3 separate regions of the Homo sapiens genome follow, and all the other regions are linked to region 1. The links come from fine-mapping of genetic effects on gene expression. A gene starts in region 1. Each other region holds a variant in brackets. All regions are shown on one strand. Distances are between the middles of the regions. Region 1 holds the start of ZDHHC17 (zDHHC palmitoyltransferase 17). Region 2 overlaps CSRP2 (cysteine and glycine rich protein 2). Region 3 overlaps ZDHHC17 (zDHHC palmitoyltransferase 17).

What was found. PIP is the estimated chance that this variant, and not a neighbour inherited with it, causes the effect. A credible set is the group of variants that fine-mapping cannot tell apart.
Region 2: its variant is the best candidate, but not a certain one, in a credible set for the expression of ZDHHC17 in whole blood (INTERVAL, PIP 0.74).
Region 3: its variant is the best candidate, but not a certain one, in a credible set for the expression of ZDHHC17 in whole blood (INTERVAL, PIP 0.57).

Annotation. Positions count from the first base shown.
Region 1 is chr12:76,762,943-76,765,708 of GRCh38, reverse strand. ZDHHC17 (zDHHC palmitoyltransferase 17) reads right to left here and starts at 1,594. Exons shown (of 17, transcript NM_015336.4): 1 at 1,380-1,594. The coding sequence starts at 1,472. RefSeq lists enhancers at 1,247-1,396, 588-1,430, 1,406-1,700, 1,997-2,096 and a silencer at 1,447-1,856.
Region 2 is chr12:76,864,148-76,866,913 of GRCh38, reverse strand. CSRP2 (cysteine and glycine rich protein 2) reads left to right here. Exons shown (of 6, transcript NM_001321.3): 2 at 653-765. The coding sequence starts at 654. Among named protein-coding and RNA genes, the nearest start is that of CSRP2, 13 kb to the left of the region's middle. RefSeq lists a silencer at 1,658-1,767. The variant C/A (reference allele first, on the strand shown) is at 1,284.
Region 3 is chr12:76,817,874-76,820,639 of GRCh38, reverse strand. All of the region lies in intron 7 of ZDHHC17 (zDHHC palmitoyltransferase 17), which reads right to left. Among named protein-coding and RNA genes, the nearest start is that of ZDHHC17, 55 kb to the right of the region's middle. The variant C/T (reference allele first, on the strand shown) is at 1,505.

The DNA of each region.
Region 1 (2,766 bases):
ACTGGATAAACACTTAAGTGTTTGAAATACTTTCACGAATACTTTCACAGGAACAGATGAATAGAAATCACTTAGCAACATTTTCAAGGCAACATCTGAAAACTACTTTGTCTATTTCCTGACGTATGTTAGGGCCTAAGTGAACCAAAAGAGATGTCTACAATGCCAGTTCTGAAAATGTTACCACTTTGGTCAGACAAGTGTTTAGTCTTACTGTATAGTTCTGTTTATCAGAAACCCAGAGTAGCCTTTTCTACTGAGACTGGCACAGGTATATATTCCGAAGGAACTGTCCCATGTGTTTTTGATAAACCAAAGTGACGAATGAGAGGGTGGTTGAGTGTTAACATGCAACATAAAAGGATGGTTGTCATTATTCACTTTTTAACAAAAACTAGTGGCATGGTACAAACCCAAATCCAGAAAAAAACAGAATCACTCCATTGCAAAGTAACCAGGTAGAGACTTCCATGTTTGTTCATCCTACAACACGACTGTCATCTTTTAACCTCATGAAAACTACCCGAGTTCTTCAGCAAACTGTGCCGCTGCCGCATACAGACATCACTGTGGATCACTAAAAATCAGAATGCATCAAGAATTGCTTCCAAGCCTTAACTAGCACTAGCTCAGCTACAAACTCGGAGGTAAACAAGCACAGACTGACTGACTGTGGAGCGGGGCACTGTTTACTTACATGGGAAGACACTCATGTTGTGATGGGAAACGTGTTGCACTGTCCACCCCTAGCTCCTAGAAAAACGGTACTTTGACAAGCTAATGTGAGTGTAAGTCTATTCCCAAAAGTTTTTACCTCTCTTCTTAATCGCTTAAGGACAAATGCTCAAAAAAGGACGCCCGACACAAGGTGCCCGAGGTGCTACCCATGGCATTACCTGGAAGGACATCACTATGCCCATGAAACTGTCCCCTCACAGTGGACTAAAAGGAAGCAATAGATACCGTCATTCACCCTGGCGAAGGAAAAAGAAATCAAAACCAGACGCGCTTCCACCTGGCCCCAAGAGGCTTGGAGCAAGACTAGGGTCTAAGCTGCGGTTCAAAAACCACACCAGGCCCCTCCGCCTCTGCTCTCAAACGCAGCGCGGCGACACAGCAGAACCATCAACACCTCCACCTCTGTCCTCCAGGCACAGCCAGGGACTGCGTCCCAGAGCCCGCCCCGGTCGGGCCCGCCCCGCTATCTCCTCCCCCGTTATCCGCTCGCAGCCGCGCTCAGGCCTGGATTCGCCTCCCCACCCTCCCCAACTTCGGCACGTCCCACTACCCCACACACGTCGGCCGCCGCCCTCGGCGAGTCCGGGGAAGAAAGGCTGGAGGGCCGCAGGGCAAGGAATCCACTCAGCACGGTTCCTCACCTCTGGGTGGAGAAGGGGCACACAGCCCGCTTCGGTATCGTACTCATCCGGGCCGTCCGCCATCTTGGTGTTAAATCCCTCCTCCCGCTGCATGCTGGGAGAAAGCGTTTCACCCTCCCGGGGCTCGGGCGAGGCGGAGGGCGAGCGCGGGGCGAGCGCGAGCCCCGCCGGAGGCGACGCGGGCCTCCTCCTCCTTCTTCTCCTGCCCCCGTGACGCCCCCTCTGTCCCCTCCCCCCTCGGAGGGCGCGGGTTTCTCCGCGCGTGCGCGGAAGCGCGGCCCGGCCCCAGACTGGATCGCGCTCTGCTGCACTGCGCTGGGGACGGCGGAGGGCTCTGGGCGTGGGCCCCGCGGCTCGGGGGCGGGTCCCGGCTGGAGGTAGATGTGAAGCTCTGGCTGCCCGGGGGAGGCGGCCGGGCGGTTGAGACAGTCGCTTGGGAAACCTAGCAGCTGCTCAGGAGCGAGAACAGAGCTCCGGAGCCGCACGCAGCACAAGTCTGGAGCCCCAGGCAGCCGAGGAGCCCACGCCCACGCGCTCCCACTTCCGCTCCGGGACCCCCGGGACCCCTCTTCAGGAACTCGGGCAGAGTCGTCAGCCAGCTCCAGGGAGGTTTGGGCCCGTCAGGCTTGAGTCGAGACCTGCATCATTCCTGAAGACAAAAGCAGCTTCCCTTTCCTCCACACTTGAAAAGGTCACCCGCAACCTGTCCCTCCGGGGGACGCCCGGAAAAACATGGATACAACTCGGGACTTCCTACTAGAGAACCCTTTTTTTTTTTTTTTTTTTTTTTTTTTTTTTTTTAATGAGACAGAGTTTTGCTCTTGCCGCCCAGGCGGGAGTGCAATGGCGCGATCTCAGCTCACTGCAACCTCTGCCTCCCGGTTCAAGCGATTCTCCTGCCTCAGCCTCCCGAGTAGCTGGAATTACAGGTGCACGCCACCACGCCCGGCTAATTTTTGTATTTTTAGTAGAGACGGGTTTTCACCATGTTGGCCAGGCTAGTCTCGAACTCCTGACCTTAAGCGATCCGCCCGCCTCGGCCTCCCAAAGTGCTGGGATTACAGGCTTGAGTCACCACACCCTGCCGAGAACTCTTTTTAAAATGATCCCAACCTGCTCTCAATCGTCTTGAATTAGTACCACACAAAAAATTTACGAGCTCAAAGCCCACACACCGCCATCTGCAACATTTCGATATAATCCAGGAATTCAGAACTGAAGCCACTTAAACTGAATTCGCTTAAATGCAAGGCAGATAAAATGACTAAAGCCATTTTTTAAAGGATTTTAGGGCGGTATGGGGGAGGTGCTCCCTGTAAATGGGCTGATGGGACAGTTTTAGATAGCATTTGTCTTTCCTTTTAGCTGTTAAAAATTGTAAGTCTAA
Region 2 (2,766 bases), 100 kb before region 1:
GAGCCATCTGGATGGGCGTTTGTTGTGGTTACGGCAAAAGTTCCGTGCATGCAGTTGTACGAGTCACAGACACAGCTATTTATGCTACAATCGTGTAATTTCAGCAAACAAATATAAAACTTGTTCTTGCAGGGCAACACACTTTGTTCCCTAGAAAGCGTGTTATAGCTTATATATGTTAAACGTTAAGAATTTAGTGTTGTTACAATTAATTAAACATGTAATGAAAACCTCCACCCAAGGGTAAGATCTTCAGCTGAGTTCAAAAAAATATGTTTATTAAAAATGGGCATATTAGGGAGGGGGACAAGGCTTGCCTTTCCCCTCCCCACGCTTCTTTCTTAACTCCTGTGGATTCTAATGGCATAGCTTGTTTTGTGCCTGGTGACCTGTACTATTGTACTGAATGCAGGTCCTTTGTCTGGCAGGAAAAAAAAAAAATCTTGTGCACGACAAGCCAGTTTCCTAATGAAAGAGTTGTTATTTGGGAGAGGAGATGAGGTTATTTTGGAGGAACGCAGGCCTTTGAAAGATGTGGTTAGAGAGGTTCATAAAGAAACGAAAATCTGCAGCTGTCCCTGGGCTTAAATAGCCCTCTAGGGAGCCGTACGACCAGCACAGGGACATTCTAATGAATCCTTTATTCCTTCAGAATGCCTGTCTGGGGAGGTGGAAACAAGTGTGGGGCCTGTGGGAGGACCGTGTACCACGCAGAAGAGGTGCAGTGTGATGGCAGGAGCTTCCACCGCTGCTGCTTTCTCTGCAGTAAGTAGCTCTCCATGCTCCACCTTTGACGGAATTTGTATGTACAGAGCTTCAATATGTCTATTTAAGGAAAAATTGTGGTTTTGCCAACAAAGATCATTTTGAAAGCACGAATGGTTTTTACCTGTCTTCTTAGATGTTGTAAATGCCAAGCCTAGCAGCGAAGACAGGAGGGGTGGCCCAAGACACCCAGCCTCCCTTTGTGTCCCCATAGCTTTTGGCCTCCATTTTGGCCTTTATTTTGTTAACACATCTGCCTCCCCCACCTCACTGAGTGCTGGGTGTCACTTATGTGGTCTGGCACCTAGCACAGTTTCTGGCACATTACAAGGGCTTAGCTCCCATTTTTGAGTAAATGATTGCTCCTCATCCACCCCAGCTTTCTCTTTCTCAGGTTCCCTTTAATGACAACAAAGTCTTCGGTTTTAAAACTGTAGAGTAGCAACTTAAAGCACTTCATTAATCATCTTCTGATTTAATGACAGAATTTTCTTTAATGAATGATTATGTCAGGTAAA[C/A]CCACCCATACGGGCAGATGTTTGCCTTATCAATAGTATTGTACAGGGAAAATTCCTACAGAAAACCATAGGTTAAAAATAGGTTACATTGAGAAATAATCTTCAGGAAAAGACTTCTTTCTCAAATTTGAATTGTCCTTTTCCCTCATTGGAGCCAGCATTCAAGGTATCTGGACCTCTTTAATAGCATAACTAAACTGCTTTGCAGACAACCAGAAGCAGACAACAGAAAGTTGCAGTTACAAAAAAATAAAAATACTACATAGGAATGTTCACTATGTATGCCTTCCTCAGAAGACTTGGTTTAACCATTGCTTTTAGAAGTTACTTTTTTAAAAAAGGAATCTATTTTTCAGCAGGCTTGTAACCAAGAAAGTATGGAAACAGAATGCAAATACTTTAGAAATTGCTCTCAGTTTCATCTGTCTAGGTTAAGCCACAATGTCTACACCATAGTAACATATGCGTGTATGCTGTTGACATTTGTTTTACTAAATGTCAAGTTCTCTACTGGTCATTTCTACGAATCCTTTCTAATATCTGTCTCTGCTGACTAATGCCTTTTAAGGAAATAATTCAGAGTAGTTTGCAGACCTATGAGAATTTTACTGCAGAGAACAGCATGAGGACTGGGGAAGAAAGGGGTGGTTATATAGTAACACTTTCATATACCTACACTTGTTTTGGTTCATACAGGTTTTTCAAAACAGTATTTACATTTATTCTCTCTGTTAAGGGTAGTTGTCCTTCAGCAGTGCATGGTGTTAGGTTAACTATGGTTTAAGATATAGTTATCTTTAGGCACATGTATTTCAGCACTTGAGCCTCAACAGTTAGATTCCAGAGTAGATGCCATTTCATTCTACCATAGAAGACTTTAGTTTAAGATAATAGACTAAATTTTAAACCAGCCAGCTAGTCCTGCTTCCCTCCCCTCCTCTTTGCTGTCCTTCCTTTTGTCCTCCTTCCTTTTTATTCAACCCCCCCCCTTTTATTTTTCTTACTTTTAATTTTTATGGGTACATAGTAGGTATATATATTTATGGGGTACATGAGATGTTTTGCTACAGGCATACAATGTATGTTAATCACATCATCTTAAATGGGGTATCCATTACCTCAAGCATTTATTATTTTTTTGTTACCAACATTCCAGTTAATACTGTCTTATTTTTAAATGTACAATGATTGTTGACAGTAATCATCCTGTTGTGCTATCAAATACTAGATCTTATTCATTCTAACTATATTTTTACACCCATTAACTCTCCTCACTTCCTTCCCGACACCCTACCCTTCCGAGCTTCTGGTAACCATCATTCTACTCTGAATCATCATACAATTGTCTTTTAAATAAGGGGAAGAAATTCTGATCTTTGATTTCCAGCTGCCAGATTGTGCTACCAGTGAGTTTCCTCACAATTTACTTTTTTCTCAAGCTTAATTGAAGTTTTAGAAAATGAAATAATGTCTGGATGAAACT
Region 3 (2,766 bases), 55 kb before region 1:
TTTCTAAAAACAGTTTCTTACCTCATTTCAAGAGGTCTTTCAATACATTAATGAACAGAGCTCAGTAATTTTATATTCTGTACAAGCTAAAAACTATGCCCTTTGATAATTTTAGAAAGAAAAGATTATAACTGCTTGTGTAGCACTCAGAGATTAACTGTTCCTTCCAAACTCAATTCATCTAAATTTATCAGTATAACCAAAAACATATGCTAAGGATTATTATTTTTTTAATCACAAATGAGATACTACCACAAAAGGGATTACTGGGTAGGCCATAATTGTGTTTTGTTTTTTATTCTTAGTATTCCAAATCATTTGTTTCCCCTGTTGTTGCTTTACAAGAAGAGATTTAAAGCTATTTCATGTAGCTATTATCTAGGGGCTTGGTTCTTAAATTCTTTTGAGTCTTTTCTGATGACAGCCACTTTTCTTCCTCCCAGAAGAATGCTGATACAAGTAACTTTTTTTCAACAATTTCAGGGGTCCATGGACCCACACCTCCTCCAACCAAAGTCTACTGGGGGGACTCCAGATAAAAAAACCTAGGGTATACAGCTATTCCTGATCCTTCCAGAGATGAAAACAGCAATTTTAAAGTTACCTATCATTTAGTATAAATTGTCTTTTTTTTTTTTTTTTTTTTAAGACATAGTTTCACTCTTGTTGCCCAGGCTTGAGTGCAATGGCACGATCTTGGCTCACTGCAACCTCCACCTCTCAGGTTCAAGCAATTCTCCTGCCTCAGCCTCCCGAGTAGCTGGGATTACAGACATGTACCACCACGCCCGGCTAATTTTGTATTTTTAGTAGAGACAGGGTTTCTCCATGTTGAGGCTGGTCTCGAACTCCTGACCTCAGGTGATCCGCCTGCCTCAGCCTCCCAAAGTGCTGGGATTACAGGCATGAGCCACAGTGCCCGGCCTCATTTAGTATAAATTGTCTTTAAAATAAGTTCTATCTTGTTTTGATAAAGGAACGTTTGTTTATACATGAAAAGAACTGAGTAACTAATATGTGAAGGTAAATCTCTAGTTAATATAAAGAAAGATTTCTAAGACACTTAATCATATATAGAAAATAGGTATTTTAGGGAAAGGGGATCTTATAGAATTATTATAACACAAAGCGTAATTTTTCATATTCTTTGAAAAATATAACTTTTTATAGCTATTAAAGCCATAGCCAGATTTGCAGGCTGCATCTTATCGTTACAATCCACTATTATCAACAAGATTCTTTCTTAAGACTTAAAAATGGAAAAAGCATAGGTATAAATAAATTTGGTTAGATTCCTGGACAAATATTCTAGGTATTTTTTTAAAATAAATGTTTCCTTTTCAAAATTGGCAGCAATTTAAGTTTACTTAATTAGCTTAATAGTTCACACGGCTAAGACACCACTTCAAATTAAATATTACCAAACAGAACCAATTCCTATCACCTTCATCCCAAAAAGTCCTTCTTCAGTCTTCACAATCTCAACATATGATATCACAAGACG[C/T]TCAGTTACCCAAAACAAAACCTAAGTCATCAACGATGGTTTCTTTTATCCTCACACCTAATCTACCTTCTTATTTCTACTTTAAAATATCCTCTCCAAATCCAGTCATTTCTCTCTACCTCTACTCCTCTGATCCTAGGCTAAGCTAACATTATCACTTGTCTGATTTATTGCAACAGCCTAACTGATCTCCATCTTTTCCATTTTCTTAACTCTTCAATGCATTCTCCATACATCAACCAAAGTAATGTTTAAAAAATATTTAAAACAAAAAGCAGATCATATAATCAGCCTACATAAATCCTTTCAAATGTTTCCCATGACTGAGAATACAATTAAAGCTCTTTATTATCGCATTGCATGATACAGCACCTGTGTTTCTCAAGTGACTTCACCATCTTGCTCACTGTACTCTGGCCACACTGTCCTTATTTCTGCACCTCAAATACTGCAATCTTACTCCTGTTTAGGACCGTGCACTTGCATGTTCCTCTACAAGGAAAATTTTTTCCCACATGTCTCTGTATAACTGATCCCTTCTCATTACGTAATTCTGAAAGCAAATGTCATCTCCTCAGAGGCATTCCCAAATCACTCTCACTGGATGTGGTCCTTCCATCCCAGTCATTCTATCACATTTGCCTTTTATTATTATTCACTTACTGGCTGTTTCCTCAACAGAATGTACATTCTGAAAGAATAGAGACCTTATCTGTCTTGAACAATGTGACTCCCCACCACCCACCATTGAATAAGAATTTGCTGAACGAATAAATACATGGTTTCTATTAGAAGGTGATAAGACTTAAGTATGTTGGGAATGCCTCTGAGGCAGATCCCCATTTTTAAAAAAGGCATTTGATACTCATTTCATCTTTTTAATTACATATAAAGTGCATTTTAAAACAAAAATCTACTTTGTCACCAGTGTAGATACAGGTAATTTTTCCCCTGAAAGTATAAATGTTCCCTGAGCAAATACAATAATTCCTTAGACTTTATTTTCTTTAGAAGTACCATCACTCCAGAAGCTACCAGGGAATTACATGAGAAAAATTTTTTGTCAATAGCCAACCTCTATTACATGTGACAGATAAAGTTAAAACATTAATAAAAAGAAAATAACTGGAAAAAAATGAATTTAAAAGCTCTAAGGTACAATAATTAGCTCAATTATAGACACTGTAGACTCTGGAAAGTATTCGCATGAACTACAATAATAGTTAAGGAAGTTACATTCTATTTCATTGTTTCTTGGCACC